Regions from separate parts of the Homo sapiens genome. Here region 2 is linked to region 1. Evidence: fine-mapped expression QTL. A gene starts in region 1. The other region holds a variant in brackets. All regions are shown on one strand. Distances are from middle to middle. Region 1 holds the start of GPSM1 (G protein signaling modulator 1). Region 2 overlaps GPSM1 (G protein signaling modulator 1).

Region 1 (11,025 bases):
CCCAGAGGTACGGGCTGCAGGGGCCAGGCACCCTAGCCATCCTCCTGAGCGACCACAGCTGCTGGGAGAGGCCCCCCTAATTCCCACCAAGAACAACTGAGGCTCCCAGACGGTAGTGGGGGCTTGTGAAGGCCACATGGGGGTCGGGTGGGGTGGGGATCTGATCTCGGCTCCTCCCCCACCCCCAAGCTCTCCCAGCCAGGGCCTGGGGATTCAGTCAGCCTCCAAGTCTCCAGGGGAGACCAGTGCTGCGGAGGTGTGGCTGCGGGTTAGCCAGTCCCAGCCCCTCTCCTCCTGGTCCCCCACCCACAGAGCTAAGCGCTCGCCGCTGCCAGCCAGGACAGGCCTGAGAACCCGCTGTTCCCAGGTGCTGCCCGCCACCCCCAGCGCTGCTGTGGGAAGATGTGGATGGCGCCCCATCCCAAGGTGAACTCCGCCGTGTGAGCGCCACCTAACCCCAAGGGCCAGGCCCTCTTCTGAACACCAACGCCCTGCTTGGCCGTGGTCCCCCACCTTCGGGCAGGGACTTTAGAGAAGAAACCCCTCACCCTGGGCCCTGCACAACCCCCAAGCACCCTGTGCGTCAGCTGCCACCCTAGCCCTGCTCACCGAGGGACCCCCACCCTGGGCCTTGGGGAGCTGCCCTTGGCACTCAGCTGCCGGGGAGGAGTGTGGGGTCACTCCGTGGCTGCCCGGCTCCGCACCTCCCTGCTGCCTGCTCTGGGGCCTGGTGTCCTCCTCCATCCTACTCTTACAGGTCACATGGGCCTCAGGCTGCTGCGCTGCCCTGGGTGGAGGGTCGCGGGGGGAGGACACACCCAGCAGATGCCATGGGGTGGCCAGTGTGAGCAGGCGGGCCCCCATCTGCAGGGTGCCCCCGGAGAGCCACAAAAGACTCAGCAAGGGCGCAGCTTGGGGGGCCCCAGGAGGTGGCAGGCACAGCTGGAGCCCAGGAGGGACCTGATTTCAGAGAAGTGGGGGAAGGGTTCAGCCTCGGCTGCTTGCAGGCCGGCCCCATCATTCCTGTTTGCTTTCTGTTGCTTTCATTTTTCATTTTTAAAACTTATGTTACCATTATTATTTTTATAGAGACACGGTCTTGCTCTGTTGCCCAGGCTGGAGTGCAGTGGTGCGATCTCGGCTCACTACAGCCTCCATCTCCCAGGATCAAGCCATCCTCCTACCTCAGCCTCCCAAGTATCTGGGACTTCAGGTTTGCACCATCATGCCCAGCTTTTTTTTTTTTTTTTTTTTTTTGGTAGAGATGGGGGTCTCACTATGTTGCCCAGGCTGGTCTCAAACTCCTGAGCTCAAGTGATCCTCTCACCTCAGGGCCAGGCCCTCCCACCCACTACCTGCCAGGCACCTCACAGCCACCTCACCCATCCCTCTGGGAATGGCCATCCGGATGCCACGTGGGTCACAGGAGCCCACCGTCGCCATGACAACCAGCCAAGCCCCATCCTGCAGCCAGCGCCACGCACGGGGCTTCCTGATTAAGGCCCACTTGCCCCACCCAGCCACTTTTCAAGTGGTCTCACTCGGTTTACTGCCCCCTCCTTCCAGGCAACATCGGAGGAGAGGGGCTTCAGGCCTGAGGCCTGGGTGTCTGTGGAGCCCAGACGCTGCTGCTCCGCAGATCTGATGATGGGAGCCACCTCCCGCCTCCCTTCCAGCCGGAGACGTGGCATCCGAGGCTCAAGGCGAAGGAGGCTTCTGGCCTGGGAAGGGCCTGGGCCTAAAAGTCGGGGATGGGTGCACGGATGGGCCTCTGTCATTCTGCACCTCCAATCTGGGATCCAGGCAATGCAGCCAGCCACCTGCAGCTGCACCAGGTGGGTGTCCCCTCCACTCATCCCAAGACAGCCTCCAACCACGCCCTGGCACCCACACCCACGTGACCACCCCACTCGCTGCCCGCCGCACCTCTTCCTCTGCAGGTTTCGCATCTTCTGCACGTAGAGCCACAGCTCCAGGCCCACGGGCAGCAGCAGCGGGCGGGGGCGGGGGGCGCCATACACCACCTTGCACACGGCCTTCTCCGCCAAGCTCAGGGCCAGAGGCGGGCCCTCCCCAGCAGGGGATGGCATCGCCAGGCCCCAGGCCCTCCTCCCCCAAGCCAGCCCTCGCCCCACCATGGCCACGGGTCCTGGGGGGTGGGCTGGCCTTAGGCTTCCCTGCCCTCTGACCTCCAGGATGGTGGGTTTAAAGCTCGGCGGGGGACTGCCAGTCCTCCAGCAGGTGCTCGGGGGCCTCCCCAATCCCTGACGTGGATCAAGGGATCAAGGACAGCTCAGAGGCTGGGTCAGCCTCGTCAGCAGCGGGGCGGGGAGCCCTGGGGTAATCCCGTCCAACGTGCTCCTCCAGGGACTGGGACCAGCGGCATTGCCCTCCCGTCAGTCACCCGCCAACTCCTCTGCAAACGTTTATCCAGTTCCCAGCGGGGGCTGCTCTGCCCCAGGACCGGGCTCACTCGGGAGCGCCAGGCACGTTTGTGAATGGAAAGAGGAATGGCGTCCAGAGTGTGTGAGTGCCCCCAGCCCAGCACCTCTTCCCCCAGGCCTGGCCCAGGGCTGGGCAAAGCTGGAATTCTGCGCAGTGGTGGCCCCTGGCCGCCTACCGGTTCTCCAGGCCCCTGTGCCTCCTCTGCTCCACCCGACCCCACCTGGCCCCCTCCCCAGCCTCCCTGGCACCAGCCCACGGTGCCAGCATGGGGCAGCGGGGGGGGGGGGCTCAGAGTCCTCACCATGCCAGCCCCACGTCTGCCGGGCCCTCTGTGCTCTCCCTCACCTGACTGGCCAAGGTGCGAACAGGGCCCCAGGTCTGACGGGGTCAGGGCCACGTGGGGCCTGGGGGATGCCGCTCCCCAGGTCGTGGGGCTTGGGAGGCATGGACCACGTTCCCCTAGCCTGGCTCCTTTCCTCAAACTTCCCAAGCCCCCGGCGTCCTTCTCAGCTGGGCTCCCAGCTTCTCCAGCCACCTGTGGCCCATGAGGAGGCTGGAACCTGACAGAGGCGGGGGACTGGGGGGGCAGGTCTTATCCCTGAGACGGCCACGGGGTCTGAGCAGAGGCAGGAATCCAAGGACAGGTGGGGGTCTTCAGGCCCTGGGCTCTCTCCTCCTTACCTTGAGGCCTTGTGGGCTCAGGGGTCCTACTCAGGCCAGACCATTTGTCCACCTTCAGGACAGCTTGGCCAAAGGCGGGGCAGGACCTAGAATGCCTCTCCCTTGCCCAGTCCTCGTCAACAGACTGAACCCTCAGACCCTCCGTGGTGGCTGGGGTGCCATCACCAAGGCCAGTTCCCAAGCCAGCACTGCAACTCCTACTACCTCCGGCCACCCGAAAGCCGTGTCCCTCAGTCCCAGCCCTGCTAACAGAATTGGCACCTGCCCCTCCCCAAGGCCGTCACCTACATGCTGGCCCCTGAGCAGATGCTGAAGAGACTCTGCTCACAGCTGGCTCTATCTGCCCCATCCCCCAGCCAGACACCCCCAGGGAAAACCACACCGACTCCCCTTCAGTGGCCAGGGGAGGGGAGAGAGTGAGGCGCAGGACCGGGCTGGGAGCACAGCGGGAGCTGGAATCACTGGAGAGGGGACTGAAGGTCACCCAGCTGTAGGAAGCACCTGGGGTCAGGCTTGCCAGGAATTCCTAGGGCCCGTCGCTGCCCAGCGACCCACCAGGGATGGTGCCCAGGACGGGGACAGGGGAGGGAGGAAGGATGGAGTGAAGGTAGGGGGTAGCATGGCCATGTGGCCAGAGAGGTTGCGGGGGGCCCAGTCCACACCTGAGGACGTCCTGTCTGGGAGCTGGTGACTGCTGCTTGGAGGGCATCTCTAACAGGGTCACCCCAAGGTGGGTGGCTCTGCTGCCCCTTCCCGGCCCCAGCCCCGGGGAGCACTCAGCTGGCCTTAAAGCAGGTGGGAGGCCAGGAGACGACCACCCAGGGTTTCCCCACTTTCCGGGGCCTTCTCAGCCACTGGCCTGTCCCCGCCAGGCCTCTTCACCCCAAAGCCCTGCTCTGGGCCAGGGAGCCCCTGGCAAGTGGGCCAGAATTCTGAGCATTAACTGTAGCACCCAGGGCCCTGTCCCCACCGACCCAGCACCCAGGGCCCATCCCCACTGACCCAGAACCCAAGGGCCCGTCCCCACCGACCCAGCACCCAGGGGCCCGTCCCCACCGACCCAGCACCCAGGGCCCCGTCCCCACCGACCCAGCACCCAGGGGCCCGTCCCCACCGACCCAGCACCCAGGGCCCCGTCCCCACCGACCCAGAACCCAGGGGCCCGTCCCCACCGACCCAGCACCCAGGGCCCCTCAGGGTACCCAGTGGGCTCATGGGCACATTCATGGGCCTCGCTGTCAGTGTGTTTTCCAGGCACAGTTCCCCATTTTAAAAGCTGAAACTCCTCTCTCCAGGAAGGAATGTCAGTGTGGGAAGGCAGTAGACGGGGCAGAGGAGACCTTGGGCCAACCTGGAGCCCCATCCACATTGAGGGACCCCAGTACAGCCACGTGAGGAGTGCCCACACGGATTCCGCCCACCTCCAGGGCATCCACATGCCCACCGCCCACGCCAGCAGGTGGGCCGCCCCCAGCACTCGGGTTTCAGGAGACAGGAGACTTTTCCGTGTCTTGCTCTCCAGCCCCAGCATGACAGCAAAGGGCCCTCCCGTCTGGCCCGCAGCTTCCACTGGCCCAGAACACGTCTAGGCATCCATGCTCTGAAGCCAGCTCCGACCAGGAACCGCCTGCCCAAACCGGGCTGTGGCTACACGGTGGGGTGCAGACTCCCGGGGGGACCTCGTCACAGGCCCTGCTGGAGGGCTTGGCGCGCTTCCCCCAAGTCTGGGCCTGACTCCACCCTGGAGCTCAACTGGACTCCCTGCTTAGGGGGATGCAAGGCTGGGTCTGGGGTCTCTCTGAGTGGTCCCCCTGAGCACTGCCCCTGCCAGGGGCTGGCTCCTGCCTGGCGTGTCCCCAGGGGACCCCAGGCTTCTAGCTGTAGCCTGGAGAATGCCCAACTCTATGGTCAGCTGTGCAGGCCTCACCCAAGGCTAAGGTCTTGGACACCCGTCTCTCACAGCTCCACACACACACTCTCTCACAGCTCCACACACTCACACTCAAACTCACTCCAGCCAGGGCTGCTATCCATCCCCCTCACAGCACGGCCGCCCTGGAGCACATGCGGCCCTGCACAGCCGATCAGATCAGCGGAGGAAACCCTTGAAAATCCTTTAGGGCAGGCCCCTGGCAGCAGCTGCCAGCAAAATCACCCTCACGCCCCTCCCCTGCGTGGGGCCCAGGAGCCAGGCTAGGGGCTCAGCGCTCCATCCAGGACGGCACAATGGGGCTGTGTCTGGGACCAAAGCAGAGAGCAGACCGGAGGCAGCAAGGCCTCTGTCCGCCGTGCCGCCACCAGTACCTCATTTCGGGTGCCCCAGGCAGAGGCTTGCTGCTTGGCTGGGGCCAGAGAATCCTTGGGGGCCAGGCTAGGCGCCCCCCGGGATCAGCTGCTGGGACCCCTATCAGGGAGGTCACCAGGTTTTAGGGATGTCCAGAGGACAATAGTGTCCCTCGCTCTGGGGAGCCAGGCCTGCCTCTGACGGCTGCCACCCATTCGCAAGCCCCTGCCTGGACCTCACGCTCGTGTGGCTCTGCCTGAGGCCTGGTACCACCCAGCCTTGCTTGGGGCTCCAGGCACCTGCCCGGCTGGGCCCAGGGCAGCCCCTGGGGGGACATTGGGAGTCACCAGGCAGGCATGCCACCTGGGGCAGGGCCACCCTGTCATCCCCAAAGGCGTGGGGCACAGAGCCCAGTCACTGGGATCACCCAGGAATGTGCCCGGAGAGTAGATGCCTTTTCAGGCAGGTACACACCCACCTGGCTGGCTCCCTTCCAACCCAGCTGGATCCCACTGGGCTCGTGGAGGGCTGGTGAGGGGCAGAGCCCCATCCAGAGCAGCCAGGTCTCTTTGGCCATGATGCCCCTGAGTGCCCCGGGCATGGCAGGGCCAGGCTTGGGAGGGAAGCACCCCACGGTGCCCCTGCCAGGTGCCAGGGGAGTGAGGCTGGAGAAGCTGCCCACCCCGCCTCCAGCCCCCCGGCCCCCCACCCCCTTCCCCTTGGCTTGGGGGAAAGAGGGCTTCAGGGGACGCCCACGCGGGCACACGCCGGGCTGGGCTCGGCCTGGAGGGAGGGGCGCGTCCTCAGCCACGCTGCGCGCCCGCGAGAGCTGCCTTTGTTCCCAACTGCAGCCTCCCCCGCGTCCCGACCCGGCCCGGTCCGGTCCCAGCCCCGGCCCCGGCCCCGGCCCCGGCCCGTCCTACCTGGAGTAGAGGCGCCTGGCGGCCGGGCCCGGGAGCTCGTCGGCCGCGGGCGGGGCCGGGCCCGCCATGGGTCGGGGACGCGGGAGCGGGAGCCGGGAGCGCCCCCCGCGCCGTGGCCGTCCGCCCCCTGCCCGCCCTGCTGTCCTCCCTGCTGTCCGCCCTGCTGTCCGCCTGTCCGTCCGCGCCTCGTTCGCCCGTCCTCCCCCGGGGAGGCGCCGAGGAAGTGATGTGCGCGGGGCGCCGCCGCCCCTCCCGCCGCCGTGGCCGTGATGTCACCGCCGCCCGCGCGGGGAGGGGGCGCGGACCGGGCGGCCACCGCCGCGTGCCTCCCTCTGCGGGGGGCGGGGCGGACGCGGGGGGAGGGGCGCCGTGAGGCGGGCAGTCCCCGGGGAGGGGGGAGGGGGGAGGGGGTGTGGGCCCCAGCCCACCCCACCCCAGGGAATGCAGGGGAGAGGGCCTGGGCCTGGCCTTGCTGCTGGTCCCCTGGGGACTTCTGAGGGCCCGCGGGGGTCCCTGGGTCACAGTGCAGCCACACTGGCCTCTGGGCTCCTTTCATCCACAGGCCGCCTGGTGAGCCCCGCAGCCTCACCCACGTGGGGAGGGGCTGCTGAGGCCTCCTTGCCTTTCTTGGTGGGCGCCCTACGCCTCGGGGGTCCTACCCTCCTCTTCTGTGCAGCCCCAACGTGGCTTTGCCCCCTTCTCCAAACTTCTGCCTTGGGCCATGGGGCGCAGGCCGTGGGGATGCTGTCTGCCTGCTTTAGAGAAACCTGGGGCACCGATGACAAATACAGGCTCTGCTTGGCCTGTGGGACGGTTGGTAAGCCCCCCACCTCTGAGACCCTGGGTGGCCACATTCCCCTCCCAAGCTCCCCCGGAATGGGGATGCAGCCTGCCCCTTCCTTCCTCCTGGGCACTGTGCAGGCTTAGGGAGGATGCAGGTGGCACAGTAGGCTGTGCCCACCCGGGGTCCCGGGACCCCAGCCCCTACCGCCTCCTCCTCCTCCTCTGAATTCTTGGAGCCCTGTGGGCCTATGTGGTGTGACGTGGCTTCCCCTCCACCCACCCTCAGCTCCCGATGGCTTGGGGGGTTCTCCGCAGCCAGCGAGGCCCACAGCCGGCCTCCCCGGGTTCTGTCCTGCCCCCGACAGCATCCTGGGCCTTCCGGTGGTGTCAGGAGACTCCAGGCCCTTGAAAGGCAGCTGCGACCCCGGGTATGACTCGGAGAAGTCCAGGAGCAGGAAATGGGCTGCATTCCTTCGGGGCCCCTCCGTGCACCCCAGCCCCTCCCTGGGAGAGCTGCCCTGAGGTCAGGAAAGTGCCGTCCTGGCAAGACCCTCAGCAGCTGCCGCCCACAGGACAGTCAGCGTTTTCAAGCATGGGAAGGAAAATAAACACGAGGTTAAAAAGGGGTCTGTTGGCCCCGGGCTGGTTTGTTTTTCCTGTGTAAGGGAGGCAACGGGAATGAGAACCATCTGTGCCCTGAGCGCAGCGCAAGCTGCCTGCTGGGCCCACGTGCCCTCCCCCAAAGACCACAGAAGCCAGGCAGAGCCTTGCTCCCTTCCAGCCGGGGCCGTGGCTGCTGGCCGGCAGGGACAGTGGTGTTGGCTGGGGCACCACCCTCCTTTGCCACAGCCCTGGGCCTGGCTGCGGGCAGAGAACAGGCCTTCGATTGAAGCTCCAACCTTCCGGGCCACCTCCTTTGGGCTTCGGGCACCTGAGCCAGCATCCCATTGTAAGGGCAGGGGCTGCTGGGGGCCCTGCCTGTGCCAGGCCTCAGCTCAGCCCTCTTTCCCCAGGCGCTGCTGCCATCAGGAGGCCCACAGAGGGTCCACACCAACACTGTGAGCCCCTTGTGGGTCCCCTGGGTTAGTGGTGGGAGGCTGGTGAAGAGAAGTGGGGACAAAAGACATTGCACAAATGGTGGAGGGAGGGAGAGATTTGCAGCCTCGTAGCTGTCATTGCTGGGGGAGCTTCTCCTGGTCTCCTTCCTTGATGCAGAGAGCTGGGAGCTTGTGTCCCTGGGCCGGGAGAGCCCCAACATTATATCAGAACTTGTGGGGAAACCTGCACCCCCGAGGGCTCTGGCTTTGTTAGGCCGAGCTGGGCTATGAGGCTGTGTGACCTGGCACAAGTTGCTTTCCCTCTCTGAGCCTCGGTTCTGTCACCTGAGGGCTGCCCGTCCCGCAAGGTGTGGAGGGTCACTGAGGCGTGGGGTTTCTGCGGTGCTTGTCCATGTGCCTGGCACACAGTGGGGTTTGTGCAGTGCTTGTCCATGTGCCTAGTGGCTCACAGTGGGGTTTGTGCGGTGCTTGTCCGTGTGCCTGGCACACGGTGGGGTTTGTGTGGTGCGTGTCCATGTGCCTGGCACACAGCGAGAGCTGCTGGGGTCATGTTGCTCTCACACTCGTGCCTGCCCCTGCTGGGCCCCTGCAGTGGGTCCTGGCTGGATTGGGGGTACATCCCCACCACACTGCACAGAGGGGCGTCTCCTCCTATCCAGGGACCTGATTCTCCTGTCGAGAAAACCTATGAAGGGGACCCAGAGATGGAGTGTGACAAGGCCAGGTGACAGGCCTGACATGTGGTGTCCACATCCAGAAGGGAGACCCTGGAGGGATGACCCTCCACTGCCACCCCCTCCCATCAGGCTCTGGACACCCTCGAGCCTCCCACCATCCACCTTACCAGATCCCCCCAAGAGTCCGGGAAGCTCACTCCCCCAGGGGACCAGGAGCACAGCCCCTTCCATTCCTAACGGGCCTGACTCCCAAAGGGGGGTGAGGAAAGAAAAAGCCATTTCACATCGACTTATTCTTCTGGCCCCAGGCAGCAGCACAGGGCGCAGGGTGGGCCTCTGCAGACACGATGGCTCCGTGGTCAGGGAGGGGCCACCTCCCATGTGCCTGGGGAGGGGCCCTCCCAAGCCCCTGCGTGGCAGCGCCAAGGGGTTGGAGTCAGCCCCAGCACACACAGGGCCCTGCTCACTGGTGGCCATTGTCAGCGCCACCTCCACCTTCAGGAGCCTGCCACGTGCCTGCCCTCGGTCACTTAGCCCTCCCTGGCACGCACCACTTTGTCCACACACCCTGTGTGTAAGTGGTGACAGCGGTGACAGCTCAGGCGTCACCTGATCGGGCCGACTCTAAGCCTTAGTCCTTCCTTGTCCTGTTGCGCCGGACAAGCCTCTGGGAGGCGACGGTGGGACAGCCACAGGGTTCTTGGCTCAGCCCCCAGGAGTGGGGAGCTGGGGCTCTGGACGGAGGTGGGCACTCGAGGCTGGTGTGGCCTCCTGGGTGAGGGCCAGGCTCGGGAGAGGCAGCCAGGCGGCCCCAAGCCACCCCAGGAACAAAGCACCAGCACACACCTCCACTGGTTTGCTAGGGCTGGGAGAAGTTGGAGTGTTTCTGTGGTGGCTGTGGCAGCCCACGGCCCCAAGACCCTGGCTTCCTTCTGCTCCCACCTTTTCAGGCCCCTTCCCCAACAAGCAGCTACTGTAGGACCCAGTGGGGGCTAGGGCACCAGCAGCTGCCATTACCCATGCTGGGTCCTGATGGTTCCTGACCAGCCTCAACCGTGGATTCCAAGCTGGGGAAGGAAGAAGCAGGCCGGGAGTGGGGAGGGAGACAGTGAAGGACACCCAAACACACACACACACACACACACACACACACACACACACACACACACAGAAGGAACAGTTTCAGCTTTGTTTCCCAGTAATCTCACTTAAAAAGAACACTTGGGTTTACCATGTTCACATAATCTCGTTGCTCTGAGAATGAACTTATTCTTCCTCCCAGCTTGGCCATGTGTTCCTCCCCATTGCCCAAGTCCCCTCATGACATCATCTCCCACTGCCATGTCCTTTCCTTGGGGACCTCCAAGTCCCTGGAGTTTGGGGACTGCAGGGTGGGTGGAGGGGCCCACAAGCTCTGCAGGGAGCCAGAAGGAAACGGTCTGTCCCACCCCAGGGCTGAGCACCTCGCTGGGAGATGATACCCACACCTGGAAATAGCTCAAGGGCCGCGTGAGGCCGCACGACACCCACGCCAGTATGAGACACCTGGCCATGCGGCATTCCTGGCCGACTGCTGGCAGCTGCAGACTTTGTCAGCCAGGTGATGTCCCCGGGATCTCTGGGCAGGCAGGGCACACAGGAGGCAGCTCACGCTCACTCATCATGGCGAGGCAGGTCGTGTGGAACTTCCTTGGTCTTCCTCATCTGCGCCCCACCCAGCCTGGCAGATGGTGATGCTGTGAGTGCCAGGGAAACACACACACGCACACACACACACATGCACACATGTACAGACAGGTGCACATGCCTGGGAGAGTCTGTGCTGCTCAGCTTCCGAGGGCAGCTCCCCAGGTCTCCCCCCGGGTCTGCGGTGGGAGGCGAGTCTTTTAACATCAGCTCAAACCAAACAGGATGAGGAGGGCAAATCGGCCGTCCCCAGTAAATCCTAGGGAGTCCCTCCAAGGCAAACAGAAAATGCACCCCAGCTTTCGCTTTTAGGGGTTTGAGTTGCGAGTTTCCAGTCTGCGGAGTGCGATGGCCGGGTGTAAGTCTGAAACCCTCTGGGGGAGAGAAGCCGCACAGTGCAGGGGTACACATCCCAGATCCACTCCCCAGCTGTGAGGCCCAGGCGCATTCCGCGTTCCCCGCCCATCTCCACCTCCGAGGGTTGCGGG
Region 2 (11,025 bases), 24 kb before region 1:
CTGCTGGGGCTCGGGCGGGCCGCCTGCCCCCTGCTCCGGGCCCCCGGCGAGGTCCACCCGCTGCTCGTCCATGCGCTTAGCCTGCACCCTCTGAATGAGGCTGAAGAAGTCCTCGTCCGGCATGGTAGGGCCCCGGGGCAGTACGTCAGGTGGCGGGCAGCGCTGGTCATCGATCCTGGAGGACTGGGTGGACACAGTGCAGTTGGCGGCCTCACCCCCCCAGCCCCAGTGGTCCGGGGCTGGTCAGCAGCGGTGGTTCCAGAGGCCAGCGTGCACTGTTCACGGGCTTCCCCCTGTCCACCCAGGAAATTGGTTCTGGGGCCTGCCTCGCTCTGGGGTCTTGTGCTGGGAGCCCGGGCCCTGAGCGCAGTCTTCTGGTGGCCCCGCCACCAACCCGCAGGAGCCCAGGGCAGGCCCGCCCAGGAAAAGCAGGTCCAGCGATTCCCACTGGGCATGGGTGTGCCAGGCCCAGGAGACAGTGGCTAGGGCGGCGTTGGATGCCTGCTCCCCACATCTGCTGATCCCCAGGGACGGGCATGCGTGGCCGTCCCTCTGCCCAGCCCTGGAAACCAGCACAGCCTGGGACTGACCCTGGCAGGCCTGAGGTCTCAGCTTCCAGAGCCCGAAGTGTGGCGCCCCCCAGGGCTTCCCCTTGTGTCAGGTGGCTGACCCCGTGGGCCTCGCCTGCTCCAGTGTGCAGGCCAGGGGGCCAAGGGGTTGTCTGGGCTTCTCTGAAGCGCCTGGAGCAGGAGGGACGGGAGCTGGCGCAGGCATGCGTGTGGATGGGGGACTCTGGGCCTCTTGGGTGGGGCTGGTTTGGAGGTGGCTGGTCGGACGCCTGGCCCCGGGCCGAGGTTTCCTCTCTGCTGTGGGGAGGACGGCAGACCTGGAAACGTGCTGGCTTGGTTCGTGGTGGGCCAAGCGGCCTCCACCCCCAGCCTGTTCCCAAGTCTACGGACCCTGAACCCCTTCCCAGCAATGGCTGCACCCCACAGGGATGGCGAGACCCCCAGAGTTTGAGGTCCTAGTTGGGATAGCAGTTGGCTCAGCAGTCTCCACTCCGGCCACCCTACCTGGCTCACCCCCACACAGATGAGGAGGTCATTCCTGGCGTGGCTGCCAGGCTGGAGCCCCGGCCCTGGCTCTGCCCTCTGGGGCTGGACCCTCCGCCCATGCCGTCCACTGTGTGGTCCCTGGATGGTCCCTGTTTTTGTCCCACCAGCCAGCTGGCAGCCCTGGATCCCCCTGCCCTCCCCACTCTGGGGGTGCTATCTGGCCCGTGTTTTCCCTGCCGGGTGTGGAGGGCTGGTGGGGAATCCCTGAGGCCATGAGCTCCAGGACCTGTGACCCCCCAGCCCCCACCCCGAGTTCCTGCATGGCAGGGGGGTGGCACAGCCTGGGAGTGTCCTGGGGTTGCCAGGGGGGGTCTCTGGTGTCTCCAGCAGCCCGGGGTTCCCAGGAGTAGGGCTTCAGGCTCAGACACCCCTGGTCATGTGGTGACACTGGCTGAGTCCCCCAGGAGTCCCTCAAACATGACCGGAGATGGCAGAACCAGCGCCCACCTCACCCCTCAGGACACAAGTTGCCTCCACACACGTGGATGGCAAAGGGGCCGCGAGCCACGCCCGCCCAGGGCCGCAGCCCACCTGGTACTTGATGAGCATGTTGAAGAAGTCGTCCCCCGGCTCCTGGGGCTCGCCGTGGCCTCGGAGGTGCCCTGCATTGCTGTGGGTGATTCGCAGCCCCGGCAGGCTGCCCACGCTGGCCCGCTGGTCGTCCAGCCGGCGGCTCTGGGAGCTGGCGATGAGGTCGAAGAATTCCTCGGTCTGGGGCGAGGCCGTCATCGAGGGCTGGGCTGCGGGGGGCCAGAGGGTGAGACCTGGGACCCAGTGCGGGGTCAAGCCCGAGGCTCGGGCTGCGGCCACAGTGAGCTCTGACCTCTGAGCCCAGCCCAGCCCACTGTGCTGCTGGGGCCATGGCTCCTGGGGGAGTCTCCGCTGACCGGCCTAGGCAGCTCTCAGCTGCTCCCCCTGCTGTGGCTCCCACGCCCACCTCAGGGGCTTCCAGGGGGTGACAGGAGGAGACAGGAGGAGAACGCCAGTCCCCCACGCCCTGCCCCCTCCCTGAGACTGCCCCTGCAGCCTGAGTGTGTCCCGGAGGGCGGGCTGATGACACGCTTCCCGGGATGCTGCTCTGTGGGGGCTGCGGAGGGCGCCCTCAGTGACAGGGTGCTCTGCAGCTGGCCTGCTGGTCTGCCCCCGAAAACTCCTCACTGGAAGCAGGACGGGAGCCCTGGTCCTGGCCCCTGCAGACAAGCCCAAGGGAGGGCCCGGCTGAGGGGGGCACTCACCGATCCTGTCCTCCAGGGTGGGGGCGGCCGTGGCCTCGGCAGCCCCGGCCTGGCCATCGTCCAGGGGACAACGCTGGTCGTCCATGCGGCTGCTCTGGAACTTGGTCAACAGGTCAAAGAAGCACTCCTCGTCCGAAGACGGGGCCCTCGGGATGCTCTGGGGAGGGAGTGGGGTCACCGCAGCCAAAGCTAGCCCCGCAGACCCCCAGACGAGACCGGGGGCTGCTTGCCCAGGCCACACACACTTCTGAGACCCTGGCCAAGATCGGGACTCTAACCTGCCCCCTGTCGGCTACCCCTCCCCCAGAACGTGTCACCCACCCTCGGCACCCGGCTACCCCTCCCCCAGGACGTGTCACCCACCCTCGGCACCCGGCTACCCCTCCCCCAGGACGTGTCACCCACCCTCGGCACCCGGCTACCCCTCCCCCAGGACGTGTCACCCACCCTCGGCACCCGGCTACCCCTCCCCCAGGACGTGTCACCCACCCTCGGCACCCGGCTACCCCTCCCCCAGGACGTGTCACCCACCCTCGGCACCCGGCTACCCCTCCCCCAGGACGTGTCACCCACCCTCGGCACCCGGCTACCCCTCCCCCAGGACGTGTCACCCACCCTCGGCACCCGGCTACCCCTCCCCCAGGACGTGTCACCCACCCTCGGCACCCGGCTACCCCTCCCCCAGGACGTGTCACCCACCCTCAGCACCCGGCTACCCCTACCCCAGGACGTGTCACCACCCTCGGCACCCGGCTACCCCTCTCCCAGGATGTGTCATCCACCCTCGGCACCCGGCTACCCCTCCCCCAGGACGTGTCACTCACCCTCGGCACCCGCCGACTGCCCCGGACTTCTCCCCTCTCATGGGTGCTACCCCAGTCCAGGCCTCTGTCCGTCACCTGCCCTGGGCCAGCCTCCCCAGCCTTGGCCTGGAACACTTCCCAGACATCCCGGGAAGCCTCCCGTGCCTCCTGTCCCTGTGCCCACCACACCCTGTGTCAGCCCTGCCATGAGCTCCCTGTGTCCATGCCCTACACAGCCCTCACCGGTGTCTGCTGTGTGAATGAACTCGAAGGAATGAACCCCGCCCTGGGCCTCAGTCCACACACCCAAACAAGGGAGGCTGGAGGGCGTGGTCTCCTGTGGCCCCCCAAGGGGCCCAGCTGAAGCAGGTCCACCCCGTGACCCAGCCTCACAGGGCCTGGTCCGGGCCCCAGGGCTGAAGGGTGTTTGTGATGGTTCCAAGCCCCGTCCACCTCCCGACCGGCGCTGGCAGCCCCTGCCCGGCCCCAGCCTGTCCATCTCACGGCTGGTGGCCTCTTCCAGGTCTGCAAATGCTGGGCTCACAGCTGAACGAGTTAACAAGAGACGCAATGTTGGTGGAGATGGCACCTCCCGGGTCCCCGATGCTGCCTGGAATTCCCAATACCTGACCCCCACAGCCCAGGAGACGGACAGCTGTCTGACAGACAACTGGAATTCCCGACACCTGACCCCCACAGCCCAGGACTAGGGCTCCCGTCCTGCTTCCAGTTTTCTGCTGGACTCGGCCCAGGGCACAGGAGAGTGGGGCCTAGAGACATGTGTGACCTACCCAAGGTCATGCTGGAGCAAAAAAGAGCTGGGATTCAGACCCTTGAGCTGAGCCGAGGGCCCTGTGGACAGCCCTGTTTTAGGAGAGACCCCACCTGGCTCTGGCCCCTGGAGTCAGTCCCCAGCTGTCACGGAAGCCTGAGGTACCTCCTGTCCCTGAGGCAGACCTGAGGAGGGAGAGTTCTAGCACCCCCTTCTCCCCGCAGGGCTCTCCTCCTGCAGCCTGGCTCAGGCCTAAGGCAACACCCCCACTCCCCCGGATTCCCCAGCCAGGAGGGAGGGGAGAATTGGCCCAGTCTGTGGGGAGGGCCACATCCACTTGGGCCAGGGCTCTGGGAGCTGCAGGTCCAGGCAGAGGGTGGCACTGGGGTTGCCAGCCTGAGTGCCAGTTGGGGCCACACAGGTACCTCCCCAGGAGGATGTGGCCTCCTGGTCTAAAAGGAACTGGCTCCTGGGCTATGATGACCTAGGGCACAGCCGCGGGGGGCCTCTGCCTCTGGCCCAATCTGGACTCCCCCAGGTGACCCGGGGCCCAGGTGGACTGAGCAAGGTCCCTCCTGGGAAAGGCAGGACCCGTCAGGGGCCATGTCCCAGGCCCCATGGCAGAGCCCCTCTCAGGGTCCTATGTCGGGCAGCCCTCCCCTTCCCTGAGGCTGGGGCCAGCTGTTGAGGGGCTGATGCCTCCCTCACATGGGGGCAGGGGCCCACGACTGCAGGTGCAAAACCGTGGCTCAGTGCCTGGTACGGGGAAAGGCTCTGGATAGTTTGGGGCTCCTGGAGCCCCTCAGAAGCAGGACCCTGGGCCCCAAGGCCACCTTCCCCTGCATTTATGTCCCAGTAGAACATATCCAGTGGGACTCGGGGTTCCGCCTCCCTGCTCTAACCTCTCCCTTGCCCCAAGCCCTGGCTCCCTCCTTCCCGGAGGCCTCAGAGTCCCTCCTGCAGTCTGACTCTAGTCTCTCTTGCTTTGGCACAAGCCCAGTTTCTCCTGCGGAGGAGGGGAATGCACCCGGCCCAAGACCACCCCACCCGGCTTCACAGAGGCCCGTGTGCTCCCTCAGCCTCCACCTGTTAGGACCCCAGGGACCCCAGACTCACGCGGATCACAGGCTGTCTCCACAGCAGCAGGGAGCCACGCTGGGTGCTTGGCCACACAGAGCGCAGGCAGGACACAAGGTGCCCAGGGCCACCACCGCCCTGCCCAAAGTGCCAAGTGCTGCCTCAATGCTGGGATGCCTGAGGCTTAAATAGGACCCTGGGCAAGGGCTCGGCCCTCCTAGCGCCCGCCCCTGCTCACTTGAGTGCGTGCACACACACAGGCTCACACACACGCACGTGGGCTCGCACTCACACACAGGCGCACTCCGTAAACACTCCCCCAGCAAGTGCAGCAGTGAACCTCCCCCTCCCCGTGCCTGTGGGCGGGCACACTGGAGGGCTGTGTGGGCAGACAGCCTGCCGAAGAGCCCTTTTCCCGCTGACACCTGGGCCCCTGGGCCTCCCTCCAGAGCTGGGCCAGGTGGGGAAAGCCACCTCTTTATTCAGCCTGACTACGGAGGCAGGCGCAGAGGACCTGGGCGGGTTGCTGTCCTCATCTGGACTCCTCTGTCCGGGACGGCCCTTCCTGTCCCACAGCCCTCGGTGGCTCCCCAGTGCCCTGGCTCAAGGGCCTCCCGGCCAGCTCAACTCAAGCCTCTGGTTGCTGCCTCTCTGTCTCATTCCTGGTTGGACCTACACTGTCTCCAGCCTCTGAGGCCAACCCTGCCCTGTCCCCTACCCTCCACCCCAGAATGAGTTCTCTGGACCCCCAGACCACACCCAGCCACACCGCCTCAGATCCCAAAGCCCCGAATGTGCTGGCTGCAAGGCCCCTGCACTGTCTGGGCACAGGGTGGGGAGGGGCAGGGGCTGGTTGGTCACCAACAGCAACGGCGCAGCATCGGTGTCACCAACAGCAACGGCGCAGCATCGGTGTCACCAACAGCAACGGCGCAGCATCGGTGTCACCAACAGCAACGGCGCAGCATCGGTGTCACCAACAGCAACGGCGCAGCATCGGTGTCACCAACAGCAACGGCGCAGCATTGGTGTCACCAACAGCAACGGCGCAGCATTGGTGTCACCAACAGCAACGGCGCAGCATTGGTGTCACCAACAGCAACGGCGCAGTATTGGTGTCACCAACAGCAACGGCGCAGTATTGGTATCAGCTGCACTTTGCAGATGAGGACCCCAACTGAGAGCTGAAAGCCCTTCCCTGAGGACCCCAGCAGAGGGGGAAGGGGGCCCACCCGGCCAC[T/CCGGCCACT]GACGCCCCAGGGATGTATCCCCCACCCACCCTCGCTGCAGTCCCCATACAGGCTGCCACCAGGGTGCAGACGGTCCTTACTCGGAGGTACCCAAGGTTCTGACCTCGGTAAGGCCAGTGGGGTTCAGGTCAGCAGAAAGCCAAGAGGCCCTGCCACGTCCTCACAGACCCTGGGAACCCCGTTTGTCTGGGGCCAGGATCTTGGCTGTCCCAGGCGTCCTGCCCCGCGGTGGTTGCAGGGGCCAGGGGAGCAGGGCCCGCAGCAGGTGGGGGCTCCCTGGGGCCCTGGCCAAGGCCTCCAGAGTGCTGGGCCAGGCAGCTGGACACTTGGAACTGTGTCCCCTTGCCCTGCTGGCCCAGACCCAGGGCAGTTTGTTGGGGTGACGTGAAGCCTGGAAGCCCTCAGAGGCTGTGCTTTCTAGAAAGCCATCAGCCCCTGAGGCCGGCTGACTGGTCTGTCCCACACATGCTGCCAGCCTCCCACTCCTTCCTTGGCGGCCCAGATGTGATGGGCAGAGCCAGCTGTGGACAGGGCAGACCCAGCTGTGGACAGGGCAGGGCCAGCTGTGGACAGGGCAGGTGTCTGGGTCCCAGTCCTGCTCCTCCCTCCAGGCCCAGGGAGGCTGGGGGATCACCGGGACCCCCGGGAAGGCCTGACCAGGTGCTCCCTGGGTGCCCTTCCCTCCACACCTCTCCCATCAGTGGACGGATGGACCTAGCCCAGATGGTTGGGCAGTGCTGGGGCTGAATGAGGGGAAGGTAGGCTGTGCCCTGCTGGTGGGAAGGATGGGCTTGGGCAGCCTCGGGGGGCTGCGAATCCCAGCCCAGCACCCACACCCCTCTGCAGGTTGGTGCCCACGGAAGAACAATTTCAGACTATTTCTAGTGGTTTGGACCCAGCCGTCCTGCTCGGGGGAGCTCCAGGCTGACCTCCGAACCCGGACTCGGCCCATCGGTGCCCCTGAACACCAACCAGCTCTCCCGTGGCTGGGGTGGCCCTGGCACAGCTGACACCTGCCAGGCACAGGCCCGGCCTGTCACCTGTCCCCCCACCAACCCCGAGTCTGACCACCAGTCTGTCTGTCCCCCGTCCGTCCACCCATACACTTGGCAGTCACTGCAACTGCCCCACCCCTCCCGCCACCTCTGTGTGCCACAGCAACGCGGGGGGCTCCTGGCTAGCCCTGAGGACCCGGGTGGCGCCCAGGCTGCGCTGCTGCTGCTTGCTGGGCTGTGACCCTCTGCTCCACTCGTGACCTTGAGCCCAGGTGGGGTAGGGCAGGGTGGGGCCTCCCAGCCCCTGACCAGGAGGAACCCTGAGTGGACCTAGCCCCTTGCTGTCCCCTCACCAGGGGCTCTGCAGCCATGCACAGGCCACCCAGCTGCATCCCCTCCATGACCCCACTCACCATCGGTCCTGCCCCGGCCCCTGCACCCACAAGGAGAGGCCCCAGTACCTTGGCCCAGCTGGAGCTGCAGGTGCTTCCACACCAGGGCCTGACCATGGGTGTGGCTTAGGGGCTTCCCACCCACCCCTTGGGTGCCCCTCAGGCCCCTCTGCTCAGGGACCCCCGCCAGGTGTCAGAGATCCCAGGATTCCCCCAGGGACTGTGTTGGCCTCGTCCACCCCTCCAGGGCCCTGGTAGGATACACAGGCTTGACCTCACTGGCCAGAGCCTCCAAGAGCCACCTCAGGAAGGGGCACCCCATCAGGGGATCTGTGCAGCCCGGCTCTCACAGTGAAGGCAGCCAGTTCCTTTCAGGGACACGCTCCTGTGACTAGCGGATGGGTCTGGAGGGTCCCAACAAAGGAGGGTGGGGGCTGGAGTCAGAGAGAGAGGCCACCTGAAGGCTGGGAAGAGCCAGCCCCCAACTGGTGAACAAGATGGAAACTGAGGCCCAAAGAGAGGCGGGGCGTTCCATGCAGAAGAGCCCAGCCTAGAGTCCCCAGGAGGCTCCTCGGTGGCCGGGGCCTCTGAGGCCAGGTGCGACCACAATGCTAAACACTGAGCCCTGCCCAGAGCCCCCACCGGGGTCCCAGGACAGCACTGCACCAGGTGCACCGGGGAGGGACCCCTGCCTCCCCGGAGTGCCCGGGCCTGACCTGGCCCCGTTGGCTGGCAGTGGAGTTGGGGCGCAGTTGCCAAGCTCTCCTCCCTCTCGGCCTGGATCTGCCGTCAAAGACGCCTACCGTGCGTGGCACGTGCACCCGGACGTCGGCGCTGTCCAGCGGGGAGTGGCTGCCCTCCCGGGGCCTCCTCTCAGCGTCCGGGCCTTCCTGGTACTTCCTGCTCCTCACGGGGAGGGGTAGCGAGTCCCTGCTGGGCCCCCGCCAGTCCCCTGAATGGTGGCTGTCTCCATTCTGCTCCTGGGGAGGGGTAAGGCTGTGCGTGGCCTGGGCAATTGTGAACCAATGTCCCCATCCCAGGACCCTGAAGGGAAGGCCAGGCCGCCTCCATTTCATGGATGCACGCCGTAGGTGCCCAGTACCCAGAGAGGAGGAGAGGACTGGGGCTGTGGGCCCTTGGCTGGGGCCGGGAGAGGCAGGGTGGGGTGTTTGAGGGCCAGTGGCCCCCGCAAATGTCAGCCGGCTTATACCAGCAATGACAGTGACTGTGGGCGTCCTTGGGTCTCGTCCCCACAGCAGAACCCTGACGGCCATCCACAACTGAACACAGGCCACACCAGAGGAACCAGAGGCTCAGAGAGATCAGGCTGCTGGCCCAGGCCACACAGCACCCACTGCCGACAGGCACAGGGCCAGCCCAGGGCCCTACGCCAGGCAGCCCCCGAATCTGTCTGTGTGGGTCTGCTGAACCCCAGCCAGTGTCTGCACCTGCAGCAGCTGTGCCCACTTTGGGTCAGAGTCCGAGAGGGCAGGGAGCAGGCAGGAGTGGGTGCCCCTGTCTGTGGGCTCCCGAGGGTGTGGTGGCATAGCAGCTGGGTGGAGTATGGGGGCCTGAAATGTGTGAGGACCATGCCTCGCCTGGGGCACAGCTGGCCAGACGCTGAGGGACATGGGTGAGCAGGTGGCAGATGGGCCATGCAGGGCATCAGGCCGAGGAGGGCACATTTATCTCCCAGCAGACAGGGGCTGAGGTGGGTGGCGGTGGCTCTGCCTCATTAACCCCGCTGCCCATGCTCTGGCAGCGGCTGTGCTGACATCGGTCCCGTGTCCCTGGCTCACCCGCTCCAGGGGGAGTCTCAGCAGGTCCCAGGTCTCCGCGCTCAGCCTCTGCGTCCTCTTGGGTCTGGCCCCTGAAGACAGAGGGACCCGGTCAGCCCAGCACCACCCTGGCACCTCGCATTGGGTGGGCCAGGCCAGAGTCTCTGGGGGGCCAAGGACCAGCCCGGCCATGGCTTTCTGACAGCCAGCCCCCCTTGTGGAGGCGAGCGCCATGTCTGAGTGTCCTCTGCGTCTCCCCGACTGTACTGTCAGAGTCAAAGGGGACAGGTGTCGAGACAGAGCGCGTCCTGGCTGGGGCCAGGTGGGGTCTGGCTTTGGCTCCCTGTGCTGGAAGGGCCCGGCTCTGGACAGGCCTCTCCCCTGCCGCACACAGGGCCTCCCCCGTCAGTCCTGCTGTTCCCTCTGCCTGGATCACCCTTCCTGTGGCCCCTGGTCACCTCTGTGAGGCCACCCAATCCCCCCTCCTGAGGGTGCATCATGCTGTGCCCCGGAGGCAGGTGGGGCGGGCCTGTGGGTCCACTCCCAGCTCACTGCGGGCAGCCCAGGCCAGGGTCGGGGACGCAAAGGCCTCAGATGAATCCCCCAGACCAGCTCTGCCGTGGGACCTTCCCCGGGCTCCTGTCCATCCCTCCTGGCCCGGGGCTCACCCTACTGGCCGTGTCTCCACCCAAGGGACCCCCATCCCCTCTAGCCGCAGTGGGGTGGTGGGGCACAGCTGCCTGACCCAACACTGGCCAGCTGCAGACTCAGCGGAGCCACCAGTGCCTGTCCCGGGCCCCTGGGAAGCCCCACAGCCAGGCCCACCTTCAAGCCTCAGTCCCAACACGGCCCTGGCAGAGACGGGTGTCACTCAGCCCTGTCCCAACACAGCCCTGGCAGAGACGGGTGTCGCTCAGCCCTGCGGGGCCCGAAAGGATTTGGGAGTTTGGGAGAGTGGGCCCTACCTCAGCCCAGCCGCTCCCTGAGCACTCTCAGGAGCCTGTATCCAGGGCACGACAGACCTGGCAGATCAGAAATCAGTTGGCGAACGGAAAAAATGGGATGGAATCCGGGAAGTGGGGAATGTCCTCAACCAGGCAGGAAGCCCTGTGGGAAGGGCCCGATGCTGTGGCTGAGAGCCAGGGTCTGCGGGCGCTTCCCTGAGGAGGCGGCGGGACGGACAGGGGCACAGCCACTGTGGAAAGGGCAGCAGAACGTTCTAGGCAGAGGGGACGACGGCGGAACGAGGCTGACACTGAGGACCCTGTCTCTGCTGTCCCTACGCCTGGCACATCTCCAGGGAGACTCTCGCAGCTGGGAGGACCCTCATCCTCCTCCCTGCTCACCCACAGCTCCCACCCCCCTATGCCCACCCTTACCCAGTCTTCCTGGGAACCAAGCGTCCCTCCACCCGTGGACACACTGGACACGGGCTGTGCCCAGGAGCCCTGCGCACACCCAGTGTGAGTCCGAGGGCGGGGCCAGAACCAGCCCTGGCATCAGTGGGCACTCTGAGAATCCAGTCCTGGCACCTCCAGACCATCAGACTTGGCCCCATTACTACGCCTCGGAGCTCAGCGCCCTCCTCATCAGACTGCGCCGGCATGGATGGGCCGG

What was found. PIP is the estimated chance that this variant, and not a neighbour inherited with it, causes the effect.
Region 2: its variant is fine-mapped to the expression of GPSM1 in tibial nerve (GTEx, PIP above 0.99).

The regions. Positions count from the first base shown.
Region 1 is chr9:136,323,072-136,334,096 of GRCh38, reverse strand. It overlaps GPSM1 (G protein signaling modulator 1), which reads right to left and starts at 6,558. Exons shown (of 14, transcript NM_001145638.3): 1 at 6,334-6,558. The coding sequence starts at 6,401. DKFZP434A062 (a long non-coding RNA gene) reads left to right here and starts at 6,774. Exons shown (of 1, transcript NR_026964.3): 1 at 6,774-11,025. RefSeq lists enhancers at 648-1,280, 5,338-5,866, 5,867-6,396, 8,926-9,554, 9,555-10,181 and a silencer at 7,430-7,724.
Region 2 is chr9:136,347,172-136,358,196 of GRCh38, reverse strand. It overlaps GPSM1 (G protein signaling modulator 1), which reads right to left. Exons shown (of 14, transcript NM_001145638.3): 10 at 9,430-9,500; 11 at 8,434-8,610; 12 at 2,351-2,507; 13 at 1,647-1,855; 14 at 1-183. Among named protein-coding and RNA genes, the nearest start is that of DNLZ, 11 kb to the left of the region's middle. RefSeq lists an enhancer at 5,186-5,480. The variant T/CCGGCCACT (reference allele first, on the strand shown) is at 6,243.